Regions from separate parts of the Homo sapiens genome. Here regions 1 and 3 are each linked to region 2. Evidence: fine-mapped expression QTL. A gene starts in region 2. Each other region holds a variant in brackets. All regions are shown on one strand. Distances are between the middles of the regions.

The links.
Region 1: its variant is fine-mapped to the expression of SUCNR1 in whole blood (TOPMed, PIP above 0.99).
Region 3: its variant is fine-mapped to the expression of SUCNR1 in whole blood (TOPMed, PIP above 0.99).

The regions. Positions count from the first base shown.
Region 1 is chr3:151,914,846-151,919,845 of GRCh38, forward strand. All of the region lies in intron 1 of AADACL2-AS1 (AADACL2 antisense RNA 1), which reads right to left. Among named protein-coding and RNA genes, the nearest start is that of AADACL2-AS1, 11 kb to the right of the region's middle. The variant C/T (reference allele first, on the strand shown) is at 1,933.
Region 2 is chr3:151,870,882-151,876,231 of GRCh38, forward strand. It overlaps SUCNR1 (succinate receptor 1), which reads left to right and starts at 2,762. Exons shown (of 3, transcript NM_033050.6): 1 at 2,762-2,825. The region is part of intron 1 of AADACL2-AS1 (AADACL2 antisense RNA 1); the gene reads right to left.
Region 3 is chr3:151,928,102-151,933,451 of GRCh38, forward strand. It overlaps LOC107986047 (a long non-coding RNA gene), which reads right to left. Exons shown (of 3, transcript XR_001740567.1): 2 at 4,224-4,345; 3 at 2,451-2,575. AADACL2-AS1 (AADACL2 antisense RNA 1) reads right to left here and starts at 74. Exons shown (of 3, transcript NR_110203.1): 1 at 1-74. The variant G/C (reference allele first, on the strand shown) is at 2,387.

The DNA of each region.
Region 1 (5,000 bases), 44 kb after region 2:
AAAATCACTACATTTAATTTGTTACTACAGCAATAGAAAATCAATACATCATTTATTAGTGTTACTTGTTCTTGAACCTCATATTGAAGGTTCTGTTATATAGTCTTTACTCTTTTGTGCCTAAATGTCATTCACACAACATAATATCTATGATGTTCGTGTCCATGTTGTTACACGTAACAAGTTTGTTCACTTTTGTTGTTATATAGTGATCCATTGTGGTATTGTTTGGCTCTGTGTCCCCACCCAAATCTCATCTCTAATTGTCATCCCCATGTGTCAGGTGGAGGAACCTGGTGTGAGGTAACTGGATCATGAGGGCGGTTTCCCTCATGATGTTCTCATGATAGTGAGTTCTCATGAGATCTGATGGTTTTAAAGTGTGTGGCAGTTCTCCACTTGCTCTCTCACTGTCTTGCTGCCATGGGAAGAAGGTGCTTGCTTCCCCTTTGCCTTCTGTCATGATTGTAAGTTTCCTGAGGCCTCCCAATCATGCTTCCTGTTAAGCCTGTGGAACTGTGAGTCAATCAAACCTCTTCTCTTCATAAATTACCCAGTCTCAGGTAGTTTTTTATAGCAACGTGAGAACGGACTAATACACATTGTATGCTAACAAAACAATGCATTGTTCATGATCTGGTTTATTATCCAATCTAGTTTTTGGTTATTGTGAATAAAGCTTCAGTAAACACTCTGATCTTTTAGCAGATGTGTTCTCATTTCTCCTGAAATAGGATAAGTATATGTTTCTCTTTACTGAAAACTTCCCAAAGTCATCCAAAGTAGTTGCATCATTTACTTTCCCACCAGCAACTCACACAGCATACAGTAAACATTTTCTGAACTTAATTAAATTACTTTTGCACAAACTATATTGCAGTTTTGGACATAAAGTAGTTTCTTTGTTGGATTTTGCTAAAATCGACTTACCTGTCTACATGATGTTCCTGGAAATTTAAGCAATAAGATTTTGCAAAGAGCAGGCTAGTTACCACATCCAACATTGGCTATATTATATAAAACAAATGCTCAATCTTAAAAAGCATACTTCTACTGTTTCATAATTGAATTAAAATGAATTAACATGTACTTATATACAAAAATGATACATTCTAATACTCTATTATTTTTATATTTAATACTCCATCTTCTGCAAGATGGTATTTTGAGATTGTTTTTTCCTAGAATTATTTTTCAGCTCCTTTTTCTTCCTCATTTAATAAGCCAATAATTTCTCTCATTTCTACCACCTACTTATGCTTCTTTTCTTTTTCCCCAAGAGACCCTGATTTAGTTTAGGCCCTCATAATATTACCTGGATTATCGCAATAGCCTTTGAACAAATTACTGCCTCTAGCTTCGAAATTATTCTCCACATTCTGCCCACCATCTTCCTATCTTTTTATAATCCAAATCTAATTTTAGTTCTGGTGAAATGTTCTCTTTTTTCCAGAGTTGTATTTGCTCTCTTTCCTGTGATCTTATTGCATTTGTACACGACTTTATTATTACTCATCTTTAGGAAATTGTCTTTGTGTTTTCAGTTTCTAACTGTGAACTCCTCAAGAATGTGGAGGCTCTCTTGCTAATTTGCATATTAGCTCAACTTATTACTGATTCCTGCACAAAGGAGATGCTCAAAATATTTGTTGAATTGATCCCTTCTACTAATGAAGATATTAATGTATTAAGGGAATTGAGGATATTTAAAATGTTCTTCAAATAAATATTTAAATTTCAAAATATCTAATGCCGAGTAAAAGTTTTCCCTATAAATGATGTCATTGGGCATTATATTGAGACTCTTTCTGTCTCCGTTTCTATAGAGTTTCCTAAAGGCTGAGAACAAAACAAAGAGAGCAAGAACTTGCAACTTCCAAAGTGAGGCTAAACTCCCTGTACAGACCTAAAATAGGAGGGGCCCAAAATTGA[C/T]GTTTTGACCATTAGCTTCTCACCCACCTTATGGGTACAAAAGAGTTAAGTTTGAAGATGCCAGGGAGTTAGGGAAAGAATTGGTTTTTGACAGTTATCTGGAGGAGGAAGATATGATGCTCCACCTCACTCAAGCCCAGTGAGAGGACTAAACTCCACTTCAAAGACTAAGTGGAGAGCCTACATGGGTCTGGTGTTGCTTAGGAACACAATCAAATTACCTGATTCATGTCTGAGAAGAAAGTGACTGGAGAGAGTTGGCTGAGATGACTTCTGACTCTAGCAGAGAGAGTTTTATAATAGCCATGCTCCCAACAAGTGTTTGCTTTTCTGGAGCAAAAAACCTAAGGACAGACATTGGTGTGTGATCTTTATTCATGGGACCCTGTCCAAGGGGGTTCCTGCTAGGGGCAAAATCTGACCCGAGAGGCAGAGGGAGATTATAAATTATCAGCTGAAAAAGAAGCACTGTCCTGCAGTAAAGCTGCTGTTGAAGGGGCTCAGTCAAAACCAGCTGTATAATTTCTGGGGCCCAGTGAAAAATGAAAATGCAGGGTCTCTTGATCAAAAATTATTTTAAAAATGCAGAGGCAACAACAGAGCATTAAACCAAGCCTGGGACCCCTCTAAGCCTGTGGTCCTGAGATTCTACATAGGGCTCACACCCATGAAGTTGGCCCTGACCTGGTTGTGCAGTCACACAGCTCACAAAAGCCCTCAAAAATGACCACAAGAGAAATGGGCAGATTTGAACTACTGCCGCAGTGCCCCCCAACCCACCAAATGAATGTCAGATTGCAGAGGTATTGGTGAAAGAAAACACCTTCTGCTCTTTACCTCTTTCCTCTTCTTCTCTTGAACCCTCAAGTCAGAGGCAGCCTTGTGGGAAGAAGAGTAGAAACTTGGTAGGGACATGGACCAGAATGTGTGTGACCACCTCACCACTTCTCCCCACTGCAGACTTCTGGTGGGAAGCAGACAAAATAAAGGGAAGAAGTTTAACTTTAGGTGAAGTTAGCAATTTTAAGTATTACACAGAGATAGGTGATTTAATTACTGAAATGAAACAATTTAGGGGGGAAAGGTAACTAGGAAACCTTTCTTCTTTTAATTTCTGAGAATTTATGGGACTTGCCCAAGATTTTTTTCAAGGTGGTGATGAAGAAGATGCCAAGACAGTGGATTTGCAGGGCTGTGATGGGAAAGAGTAAAGTACCTTTATAAATGTGCCCAAAAGAGTTCTTCTTATTCACTATAATGATAACGACTATTTTTATTTATATACTCAAATCTCTCCGGGTAAACACACACATATCCACACACAAACATTCATGCTCACATATATGAATTGATGTTGAAATATACATACATTTGAGGTAAAGAAGTTGAACTTGTGACTTAATTGAGCCATGTCTCTGAAATACATCAATTATAAGCCACAGCAAAAATATTGCTTATGAAAGAAACCAAAAACAGAATGTGTGCTTTAAATTTTTGTTCTTGTTCTACTTAAATTTGAGAAACTAGGAATATAAACCTGGCAGATGGGGGTGGGGGCATAACTCTAGACAAAGTTAGAAATGCAGATAAGGTATTCTGGCCAAGTCTTTAATTTTGGAGGTTATGGTTAAATCATCTGCAATGTACAGTTAAGAAATGTGCTTTTACTGCCCTCAAGTGGTTTTAAAATTGTCACTGCAACATTTCTGACGACTTCAAAGTGAATGTTTCAAAACCCTAAGCAGTCTTCACATTTTCCAGGCTATCTGACAAGGGAATCTGAAATAATAATCTTTTATTCTGAAATAGTTTCTAAATAAGCAAATAATGAAATGGATCAGGTAGATTTATGTTGTTGTGTTGAAATATATGCACTAATACAGATTTGTAAAATTGTTTCTCTTCTTTTTTTAAAAATGTAACTGTAGCTTATACATGGACTCTCAGCTGGTCAGGGTTTGCGTAGGAAGATAGTATGACAGTTACTTCTTCTTCTAAATTAAGCAGCTGAAAATTATATAAATATTCAGAGAATGTAAGCTTCAACATCTTTGTAAGTGCTGTTTCTCTGCTTCCCTTTCTACCTCACAGGAGAACACCTGAGTAGAGCAGAAAGCTTGCTGGGCCAGCCCTGCCTGCTGGCTCTTTGCTAGACTGGGTGGGTGGCCCACCGTGTTGCTGCCTTGGCCCCTCCTTGTCGCTTTCGGATGCTGCCAACCCCTTGTGATATGGTTTGGCTGTGTCTCCACCCAAATCTCACCTTGACTTGTAATAAACTCCACGTGTCAAAGGTGGGGCCAGATGGAGATAATTGAATCATGAGGGCAGTTTCACCCATACTGTTCTTGTGGTAATGAATAAGTCTCACGAAATCTGATGGTTTTATAAATGGGAGATCCCCTGCATAAGCTCTTTTACCTGCCACTATGTAAGGCATGCCTTTGCTTCTCCTTTGCCTTCCACCATGATTGTGAGGCTCCCCAGCTATGCTGAACTGTCAGTCCATTGAAGCTCTTTCCTTTATAAATTACCCAGTCTAAGGTATGTCTTTATTAGCAGTGTGAGAACAAACTAATACACCTTGAGTCTCAGTCATGCTCTCCTCCACCAGCCCATAGTTTAAGAGATTACTTGCAGTTTCTGCTCTTGGCACATTTACTCCTCACCATTGTGGGCCATTCCAGGCCTGCTGGTTCTTGGCTCTCATCAGCCTTCTTCAGCACCCCCAGGGAAGCACAAAAACATGTCTATATATGTTCACACCAAAAGACAGCCCATGTTGGTGCAAGGTTTCTATCCTGAGCTTTCCTTTTGCTGAAACCTCCTACTGTTCACATGTTCGCTGATCAGAGTCCCCTGGAAGTCTTGTCAACACACGTTTCTGGGCCTATACCCAGAGTTTCTGATTCAGTAGCTCTGGGTGAGTTCCAATGACTTGATGTTCTAGCAGGTTCCCAGATGACGATGCTACTGGTTCTGGGACCACTTTTTAAGAACCACTGGCCTAAACCAGTACTTCCTCCAATTGTTCACATAGAGTTACATGTAAAATATAATAAAATAGCTCA
Region 2 (5,350 bases):
CCTCCAGGACCTATGCTCTTAAACACTGTGTTATACTACCTCTTAGCAAACAGTACTACAAGCTTTTAAAAAATATATATTTTAAAAAGTGTTCATTGTTGTACTTAACTTTTTTTTTTTTTGAGACAGGGTCTCACTCTGTCTCCCAGGTTGGAGGGCAGTGGCACAATCATGGCTCACTGCAGCCTCGGCCTCCCCAGGTTCAGGCCATCCTCAAGCCTCCCGAGTAGCTGAAACTAAAGGCACGCACCACCATGCCCCAGCTAATTTTTGCATTTTTTGTAGAGACAGAGTTTTGCCACTTTGCCCAGGCTGGTCTCCAATTCTTGGACTCAAGTGATCCGCCTGCCTTGGTCTCCCAAAGTACTGAAATTACAGGTGTGAGTCACCATGCCCGGCCAGTACTGCAAACTTTCACTGCCTTTCAAACTTCCATTGATTCTCAAGCAGTGCATCTCAACATGTTATATGTAAAAAAAAAAAAAAGACAAAACAAAAAAACTTTGCCCCCTCAAAATTTGATGTGCTATACTGAATAGAAATAGTTTCTGAGGAGGTTTCTACTCTCACAGGCAGAACTGGCTACATATTTAGTAGAGCCCAGTGCAAAAGAAATATATGGGGTCCCTTGTTAAGAAGTTATGAAACATTTTAATTAAGAATGTGACAGTAGAGCATTAACTCAACTGTGTGATCTTTTTTGAGTGTGAAGCACTGTGAGACTACACAGTAGCATACCATGAAACCCACCCTGCTCACAGGGTCATAATTCTGAATCCAGCCTTGTTCCCGTGCAGCTATCATTTTGCAGACCTGCATAAAGCTTTGTAGCAGAAATACTCGTGACCTTTTAGTAAGTCTTTCCCAGTAACACTCTAGTATCTCAACTGAGAGCATTCGGAGGAAACAGGAAGTAGGACTTGGGAGGGAAACAAGGCTACCAGGCTACAGTCTAGATGACGTGTTCTATGAAAAAGGAGAAGCATAGACCAATTTTTGTCTTAGCAGCCAGAGTGAGATGGTAGTCAGGAAGTGGGACGAAGAAAGAGGAAGCTCTCGGGAACTCCCACCACCCCACAAAGGGGGAATTACTCTTTTCTTCCATCAGAATGGTGGCAGAAACCTGTGAAATACATCCATTTGTCTTTGTTTCTTGGAAGGGGTTCATGTTAATTTATGTCTAAAATTAACAAGCCTGGCATTGGTTATTCAAATGCTTTTTGCCCTTTTAAAAATATAGACAAAAATAATGTTTTAACCTTTCTTCCTTCTAAAAGTAGAAAAGAATTGCATTACTGAAAAATACCTGTTATTAATTCTTAGACTTTGTTGTGCACAAGGGTATTGTCATTCAATTCTGTAGGCAGTCAAGAATCAGAGTCGGTGCTTTTAGAATCCAAGTACATAGGCTTAAGCTCTGGTCCCTCCCGTTATTGATTCTGCAATCTTGAGAAAGTTAATTGACCTCTCTGAACCTTAGCTTTTTAATCTGCAAAATGAGAAAAATCTTAAATAATAACAACCTCAGAGGATTACTATATGCATTTGATGCATAAAGGTACTTAGTGTAATACCTGCCTGCCACATCACAAGAACTCAACAAATTATAGATATTTTTATTTCATGTAAATGCACATGTTTGTATACATAAATATTCATACATGTATAAATATATTTTACACATGTATATAAAGTGTGTAATATAGACACATATGTATGTATATATGTATGTGTATATATACATACATATATTTTGAGTTCCTGAGTTTTTAAGCTGTCAGATATTGGTGAGGAGAAATGCTTAGTTAGGAGGATGCCTGTAACAGAGCTTCTTTTTGGGCTTCTGCCTGTCATTGCTAACTCAATATTCAACTTACATAGCATTTAAATTGAATTACTGCTGCCTGCACAATTATGGGCTTTCTTAGTATAATCCCTATGCTTCACATCAAGAAGACTGAGTGTTTACTTGAATCTAAACCTAATATAATGCTTGGAAAAAGCCAGGTGTGCTTCCTGTCTGAAATGGTGGTAATGTACTTCCAGATGTTTTTCAGAGCATTGATTGGGATATATAAATTGCCATCTATTAAGGTTATTTTACTTAGCATCTCTCTCCCTAATCCCTAGCTATCTGATGTATCTTTTATGTGTTTCTTGATTTTAAGCACAGAAAATAAAATGGAAAATAACTTGAAGCTCTAGTATCTTTTTGCTAGTACACCAACATAGCATATATCCAGGTTTCCCTTTAAAATTTCAGTTTTATAGTTCCCTCAAAGTTATTGAAAACAGAGGTTTCGTTATTATATTCTCAATACAGAATTCACTAAGAAAATTAATTTTAAAAAAGAAGAAAAGCAGAGGCAACTGTATTCCCAATATAAGCAGTATTTACCACTTCTTATTGTGTAAATATGCAAATAAAATGAAAATAAGGAATGCTTCTCTGTTGCTTTGGTAGTGGATAAAATAAGTTCAACAGTGTTTTTCTAAAAATCTATTTGGTAAATGTGTTTCCTGTGAAATGAGTTACTTGTTTTTTGTCATTCAATTGCAAAACTGCATGTGAAAATAAAATAAATGTGAATGTGAAAATAAAAGCCTCACAAAAATTCCTCTGCATGAACATCTCTGACTGGGAGGTTTGACTGAATAAATTATTCCTGGGCTTTTGAATTATTAATCTTGGCTGCAGGATATGCAAATAGGATATGCAAATAGGACACTGTAATAACCATGTCCAGTGGCACAACACTGGGTCAGAAGCTATATCCAGCTGCTGGCAGAGTTCCTGTCAAGGGATCAAGTCTTCCAACAGAATGGTAAGCTACATGGCAAATTGTGCCTCTCAGTGTATAAAGTAAGGCCAGATTTCCTTCTAAAGGTGACCTGTGAGCAATTAAGGTTTTCAGTATTAAGTGTTTAAATTAATTCTTTATAAATAGATGTAAAACAGCAAAATAATTGAAAAAAAAAAGTCATTTTTATCTCTACGTTTATTTTTCAACAAATTAACTGTCTTCTTTTAGTTGTCAAATACTAATTTTATTTTATGTAAAAGGATTTATTATATTTGCTAACATCTCAACAACTTATATTTCAACAAAATAGTAATTGGATTTACCTAAATAAATATAACTACTTATGGGGAAAAATTAAAGTTCCTAAATGATTTGAAACAATCATGTATTTGATACATACACACACACACACACACACACACACACACACATATACATACATATATATATATATATATATATTTTTTTTTTTTTTTTTTTTTTTTAAGACAGAGTTTCACTCTTGTCACCCAGGCTAGAGTGTCTGAGTGCCAGAGTGACACATTTACAGCATGTGTTGGCTCACTGCAACCTCCGCCTCTGGGGTTCAAGCAATTCTCCTGCCTCAGCCTGCAGAGTAGCTAGGATTACAAGCGCCCACCACCACGCCCGGCTATTTTTTTTGGATTTTTTAGTAGAGATGGAGTTTCACCATGTTGGTCAGGTTGGTCTCAAACTCCTGACCTCAGGTGATCCACTCATCTCGGCCTCTCCAAGTGTTGGGATTCCAGGCATGAGCCACTGTGCTGGGGCATAATATTTTTATGTTTAGAAAATAATGTATTTGGGGGAATTTTCAGGCATCCTAAAAATTAAATTTAACATTTATGTGTGTAAAAATGATATTACCCAATAATTAATTTACTTAGGAAAAATGAAAAATTGCAGAAACCATTTCTATTCTACCTTCCATAACTTTTCAAAATGTGTGTGGTATTCTTAAAGAAGTTAATACACAATTTGTGCCATACTATTACTTTTTAATACCTTAATTTCTGGTGTAATGTATGGAATACATAAAAATAAAGTTACAAATGTTAAATTATTATATCTTTTCAGTGTGAATATATATTTTTGCTCAAATTATTTAGTAATCAAAAAAGTAATTTGTTAAAAAAAATTCTCATGTTACCATGTAAATTTGCCTTAAGGTAGCACTTAAAAGTAAACATTTTACAAATGTTATTTGTTTAATTGTGATGACTATAAAAACAAACAATTAAAAAGCTAAGAAACTATCACATATATATTTTAAAGTAAATTTCAAAAATGCAGATTTTCAAAAGGCTGAATATATTTAAAGTAAAAAACATTTTCAAGTTAAGTATTATTGGTCTGCTTATGTGAGTAAATTAGATATTGCTTCTAGTTCAATAATTCTAACAGTTTTAGATATATTTTTGGACTGGAAACTAAAGATTTCACTTTAATTTCTGCTCTTAAAAAATACCTATTCAAAATAATTCATCCAAATCAGTTACAATTTATTTATCACTATTTCCATTTCCTAAAAATTAAGAATATAGCCACTAGATAGCAGAAGAGAGAATATGAATTTTTCATGAGGGAATTTTCTCTTTAATTGGGAGTTTTGCTTAAAGGAGCAACTTACTTCATATGTTTATAGAATTGCGATGCCACACTAAAAACATACCCAACTATAAACATATCCAATTTGAAATATAGTATCTTCAAAATTTTGTATCCTAGTGAAGTTAAATTGGTCTGCAAATATTGCACAGCTCATATTTATAAAATCATAATCTATTAGAATTATGAACTTAGAAAAAATGAAACAAATGTATCAAAAAATTATAAAACATCATAAAAAAATCTCATTTTTATGAATAAAAATTCAGGTAAATATTAAAATGTAAAAGGGTACCCAAATATTAGGAGTGGTCTGTTTACAGACCATTTTTATTTCTTATTTTTGCCTATTTGATTTTATGAGTGTTACACCTTAACAATAATTTTACACATACATTTTTAAAAAGTTGTTTCAAAAAAATGAAGAAACAACTGTATGAGAAGAAAGACAAATATGATAATTTAGTCATTCATTTCTCTTATTTCAGCTCTACTCCTTCCCTACTACTCCTTCAATCCCCGACCTTCTGGGCTACTATAAAGCAGAATGCTCCTTGACTTTCATGTGACCCGTCACCTGCCTGAGTGATAGTTGCAGGAAATCAGGCTCTAGTTGCACAAGTCTTTGTGGCTATATTTTCCTTCCATTGCAGTCAAATCTTTCTGCTGTGCACAATACATAAGCTATTAACATTACCAGTGGTGACTAGGCAGAAAGATAAACGTTATGACCAGAAAAAAAGGAAATGCAAAAGTGAAACAAATTTCTTGTGTCAAGGAAACTTTCTATACCTTAATTTTCATTTGAATTTGTGCACCAGCTTTTTGAGTACCCACAAAATAACAAGAGCTCAGAAATAAGGCCTGAGAAGGTCCAACATTTAAAACTTGGGCAAAGAAGGATTAAGCCACAAAAG
Region 3 (5,350 bases), 57 kb after region 2:
CTGGGCTGGCCAAGGCCAGAGTCCACTCCCTCAGCTTGCAGGGAGGTGTGGAGGGAGAGGCGCGAGCGGGAACCGGCGCTGCGCGCGGCGCTTGCGGGCCATCTGGAGTTCCGGGTGGGCGTGGGCTTGGCGGGCCCCGCCCCCGGAGCAGCGGGCGGGCCCCGCCGACCCCGGGCAATGAGGGGCTTAGCACCCGGGCCAGCGGCTGCGGAGGGTGTACTGGGTTCCCCGGCAGTGCCAGCCCACCGGCGCTGCGCTCGATTTCTCACCGGGCCTTACCTGCCTTCCCGCAGGGCAGGGCTCGGGACCGGCAGCCCGCCATGCCTGAGCCTCCCACCCCCTCCATGGGCTCCTGTGCGGCCCCGAGCCTCCCAGACAAGTGCCACCCCCTGCTCCACGGCGCCCAGTCCCATCGACCACCCAAGGGCTGAGGAGTGCGAGCGCACGGCGCGGGACTGGCAGGCAGCTCCACCTGCAGCTCCGGTGCGGGATCCACTGGGTGAAGCCAGCTGGGCTCCTGAGTCTGGTGGGGACGTGGAGAACCTTTATGTCTAGCTCCGGGATTGTAAATACACCAATCAGCACTCTGTATCTAGCTCAAGGTTTGTAAACACACCAATCAGCACCCTGTGTCTAGCTCAGGGTTTGTGAATGCACCAATCAACACTCTGTGTCTAGCTACTCTGGTGGGGCCTTGGAGAACCTTTGTGTCTAGCTCAGGGATTGTAAATACACCAATCTGCACTCTGTGTCTAGCTCAGAGTTTGTAAACACACCAATCAGCACCCTGTGTCTAGCTCAGGGTTTGTGAATGCACCAATCGACACTCTGCATCTAGCTACTCTGGTGGGGCCTTGGAGAACCTTTGCGTGGACACTCTGTATCTAGCTAATCTGGTGGGGACGTGTAGAACCTTTGTGTCTAGCTCAGGGATTGTAAACGCACCAAATCAGCGCCCTGTCAAAACAGACCACTGGGCTCTACCAATCAGCAGGATGTGGGTGGGGCCAGATAAGAGAATAAAAGCAGGTTGCCCCATCCAGCAGTGGCAACCCGCTCGGGTCCCCTTCCACACTGTGGAAGCTTTGTTCTTTCACTCTTTGCAATAAATCTTGCTGCTGCTCAGTCTTTGGGGCCGCACTGCCTTTATGAGCTGTGACACTCACCGCGAAGGTCTGCAGCTTCACTCCTGAGCCAGCGAGACCACAGAACCCACCAGAAGGAAGAAACTCCGAACACATCCGAACATCAGAAGGAACAAACTCCAGACGCAGATGCGCCACCTGAAGAGCTGTAACACTCACCGCGAGGGTCCGCGGCTTTATTCTCGAAGTCAGTGAGACCAAGAACCCACCAATTCCGGAAACATTATGGCCGCACTGCAGAATACCAGGTATTGCCCCTACCAACCCCGGACATTGCCTGTCATTAGCGCTGTCACCAGCACTGTTCAGACTCTGGAACTCTTGTCTCTGCTACCTGCACTGGGACAAAAATCTCCTTTGTCCCTGTATCTTTGCATCACTTGCTCTAGAGTGGATTTCCTGGCAGGTTATATGCCTTTATCCTCGGTACTGCAAAATCTGCAAAAGCAAGCGCCCATCATTTCTTACTTTTGTGGACACCGAAAGTAATGGATAATTCCTTACCCCATTCCTTGCCCAAGAAAGGAAGGGACTGCATGTGATAGGCAGCCACCACCACCAGTGATATCAGCCTAACATATCATGTTTATATTATTCAGTTAGAAAAGGAAAAAATGGCCACTTTTAAACAACATTTATATAATAAACAGTTAAAAAAAAGGAAGAAGCTGCACAACCCAAAGAATGTAGAAGAAAGAGCCCCTCTGCTACATCTAAACCAAACCTGTTACTACTTTGCCATGTTACCTTGAACAGGACCCTTCACCTCTCTGCTCCTGTTTCATTGTCTTACAAATGAGGGGTTGGACCAAGTGATCTTAAGGTCCCTTCTTTTTTGATATTCTCTAACTAAAACATGACAGTATCAAAGGGGGAGACTAGGTGGCTTAGTCTGTGGCTTTGCCAATCAGATCTCAATTGGAAGAAACAATCATGAGGTTGAAAGCAGGTTTGTGCAAACAGACAAGAAAGAAAACCAAGGTATTTTTTAAAAATTGTATCATTTGTGCTCTGATCCAGAAAGGGAAATGGGTTTTTTTGTTTGTTTGTTTGTTTGTTTGTTTTGGAAATGGAGTCTCGCAATTCTCCTGCTTCAGCCTCCCGAGTAGCTGGCACTATCAGTGCACGCCGCCACGCCTGGCTAATTTTTTCTTTTTTAGTAGAAATGGAGTTTCACCGTGTTGCCCAGGCTGGTCTCAAACTCCTGAACTCAGTCAATCTGCCCACCTCGGCCTCCCAAA[G/C]TGCTAGGATTACAGGCGTGAGCCACCGCACCTGGCCAAGGGAAAGATTTTAAAATTCATCTCAAGGGGTAAAATATTTGTCACCAACTAGAAAGCAGAATATCATATCAGAAAAAATCACTCTCACCTTTGTCCATATGCTGGAAGGCAACTGGAGTAGCCATCTGGATTCATTCATAAAAATTTGCTCTGTTAAAGCAAAGTGGATACAAGAGCACTTGGTAAGCCAGGACTGTATTGTTTCTGCATCATTAAGGTTACTCCTGTTGTCATTTTCATTGAAATCATAGGCATCATCTGGCAGGCTTTTTTGTTTTTTTGTTTTTTTTTTAATTAAGGGCTAGGGTTTTGTTGTGTCAACCAGGCTGGAGTGCAGTGGCATGGCCATAGCTCACTGCAGCCTCAAACTCCTGAAACAATTCTCCTGCTTCAGCCTCCCCAGTAGCTAGCACTACAGGCGTGCACCACCACACCTGGAAATATTTTTTCATTTAATATTTTATAGATACAAGGTCATGCTGTGTTGCCTAGGCTGATCTCAAACTCCTGGCCTCAAGTGATCCTCTCACCTTCGCCCAAAGTGCTGGGATTACAGGTGTGAGCCACCATGCCTGGTCTGGCACTGGCAGGCTTTGGTTTCTAATGCCTAACTTGCCAGCTACTTCCTCTAATCTAATTTTTTACAAACCCAAGAAGCTCTGAAGATGAGACAAAATAATTTTTTGAAAAATTTTCTTTATAAACACACACATACATATATCAAAAACAGAGAGCCTGGTCATGACATAACATTGTATTGAAGGGGTTCTTTTTATTTTTCTCAGATCTTAGGTTTATTCATCTTTTATTTTTCACCATAGAAATCCTATGACTCATAAAAACACAGGGCCAGGAGTCCTGTGACTCTATATTTTCATAGAGAGAACATGATTTGGAAGACCAGACTTAATAATTTTACTCTGTCTCAAATTTTGAATAGTGTTTGCTTTAAAAGGCATCTTATCACCGAAAGCAAAGTGAGAAAAATGAAGTCAACATTCACTGACAATTCTTGCCACTCAACCCTTTAAAAAGATAACCAACTACATAGTTACTGAGGGGTCCTTCATTATTAGGGAGTAAGGGGAATAACTTTCACATCTCTATAGTATTTATGGATCTGACATCTGGATAATAAGGTGTTTTGTAAGTAAATCTTTCGATAACATTGTTTTAATTTTCTGAGAAAAACTCAACCTTATTATCAAAACGTATTTCACCTGACTATATTTTCCCCAAATATAAAATTTACCAATAGGAGCAATCAGTCAGTACATACTAGGTCTTACTCATTAGTATATTAATACCAATTTCACAACACTGCATAAACAAATCAGCTTCATAGAATAAAATTCTAAAATATTCTGATGTAAATTAGTAAATGTATGCAGGGAATTATTTATTTACATATTAACATTAAAACATTTGAAAAGATTACACATCAACTTGAAGTACAAACACTCTGCAGATCATCTTACATTTTCTCTTGTGCCTTCTCAGGCTAAATGTTCTTAATGAAAAATGACAAGAAAAAGGTGTGAATAGTCAGCAGTGTTAATGCTAATTTTTGAGGTAAAGGAGACAACTAGCTTCAAATAATATTTGAGTGAAAATGACTATTTCCTCAATCATTAGTCATAGGGAAAGGAGAATGAGAACACTAAAAAAAATTATTTAAATAGCACTTTATATTCAAATATTTTAATTAAAAATTCATTAAATATTTTAAACTAAAGAAGTAAAGCATTTGGAACCTAAGCTCCAGGCAACTAAAATTTGGTCAAAGTATTTCATGTACCTGTCAAATTGCAGATAAAAGTTGTAGTTTCTTTTTCTTTTTCTTTTTTTGTATTCATCTTTGGCATTTAAAGTAGATTAGCTAGTTGTTGGGTGTGGACATCTGTGTCTTGAGCTTTTCTCCTGGAAATCAATATTTATTTAATAAACCTTTTTTCTTTAAAGGCAAATTATCATCTGTTTTTTCAGGGTGGTCCCGGTACTTTCCAGTTATAAAATAAAATCGGCTGAGATTCAAGAAGTTCATTTGGCTTGAGGTTAAAAAGTAAATTTTGGCCCTTTTGAATTGAAACTTGGTTAGTCAGAACCTCTAATCATTTCCCTCTAAAAAACCTAGGGTTATTTTATTTTAGAAGGAGACGACTATTGAATCCATGAGTCACTCTAAGGCAAGTCTTAATATTAATCTTTAATTCTTTATATTAAATCTCAAAGGGCCGGGCACGGTGGCTAACGCCTATAATTTCAGCACTTTGGGAGGCCAAGGCGGGTGGATCACTTAAGATCAGGAGTTCAAGACCAGCCTGGCCAATATGGTGAAACCCCGTCTCTACTAAAAATACAAACATTAGCCAGGCATGGTGGCACGTACCTGTAATCCCTGCTATAGGGAGGCTGAGGCAGGATAACCGCTTGAACCTGTGAGGCAGAGGTTGCAGTGAGCCAAGATTGCGCCACTGCACTCCAGCCTGGGTGACAGAGCAAAATTTAAAAAAAAAAGAAAAAAAAAAACTCAAAGGGATATTCTGTTCTGTTCTGGGATCCCCAGTCTCCACTCTACACATAATATTGCACATTTCAAACCAAGATTAAGAAGGTGAACGAACTCAGCACTGGCAGAAAAAATCCCTTGACTTTTGCAAAGTCAAGCCAATTCATTCTGAGCCCATATGAAGAATATGTTATTGTTCTGATACCTTAAGCCAGGTTTTTTTCCATTATTTTTAAAGTACCCCTTTAATTAATTAGAAAAGCATAAAATTAAATTTTAAAGCATTTTGTTTTACGCAATCAATTCATCTTTAGAAATGCATAAGAGAACGTAAGGATTGTCATCCTTCATTTTACAGAGGAAAGTGATAATAATCATTTGCTGAGTCATCAACACTACAAAATAAAGCCCTGGAG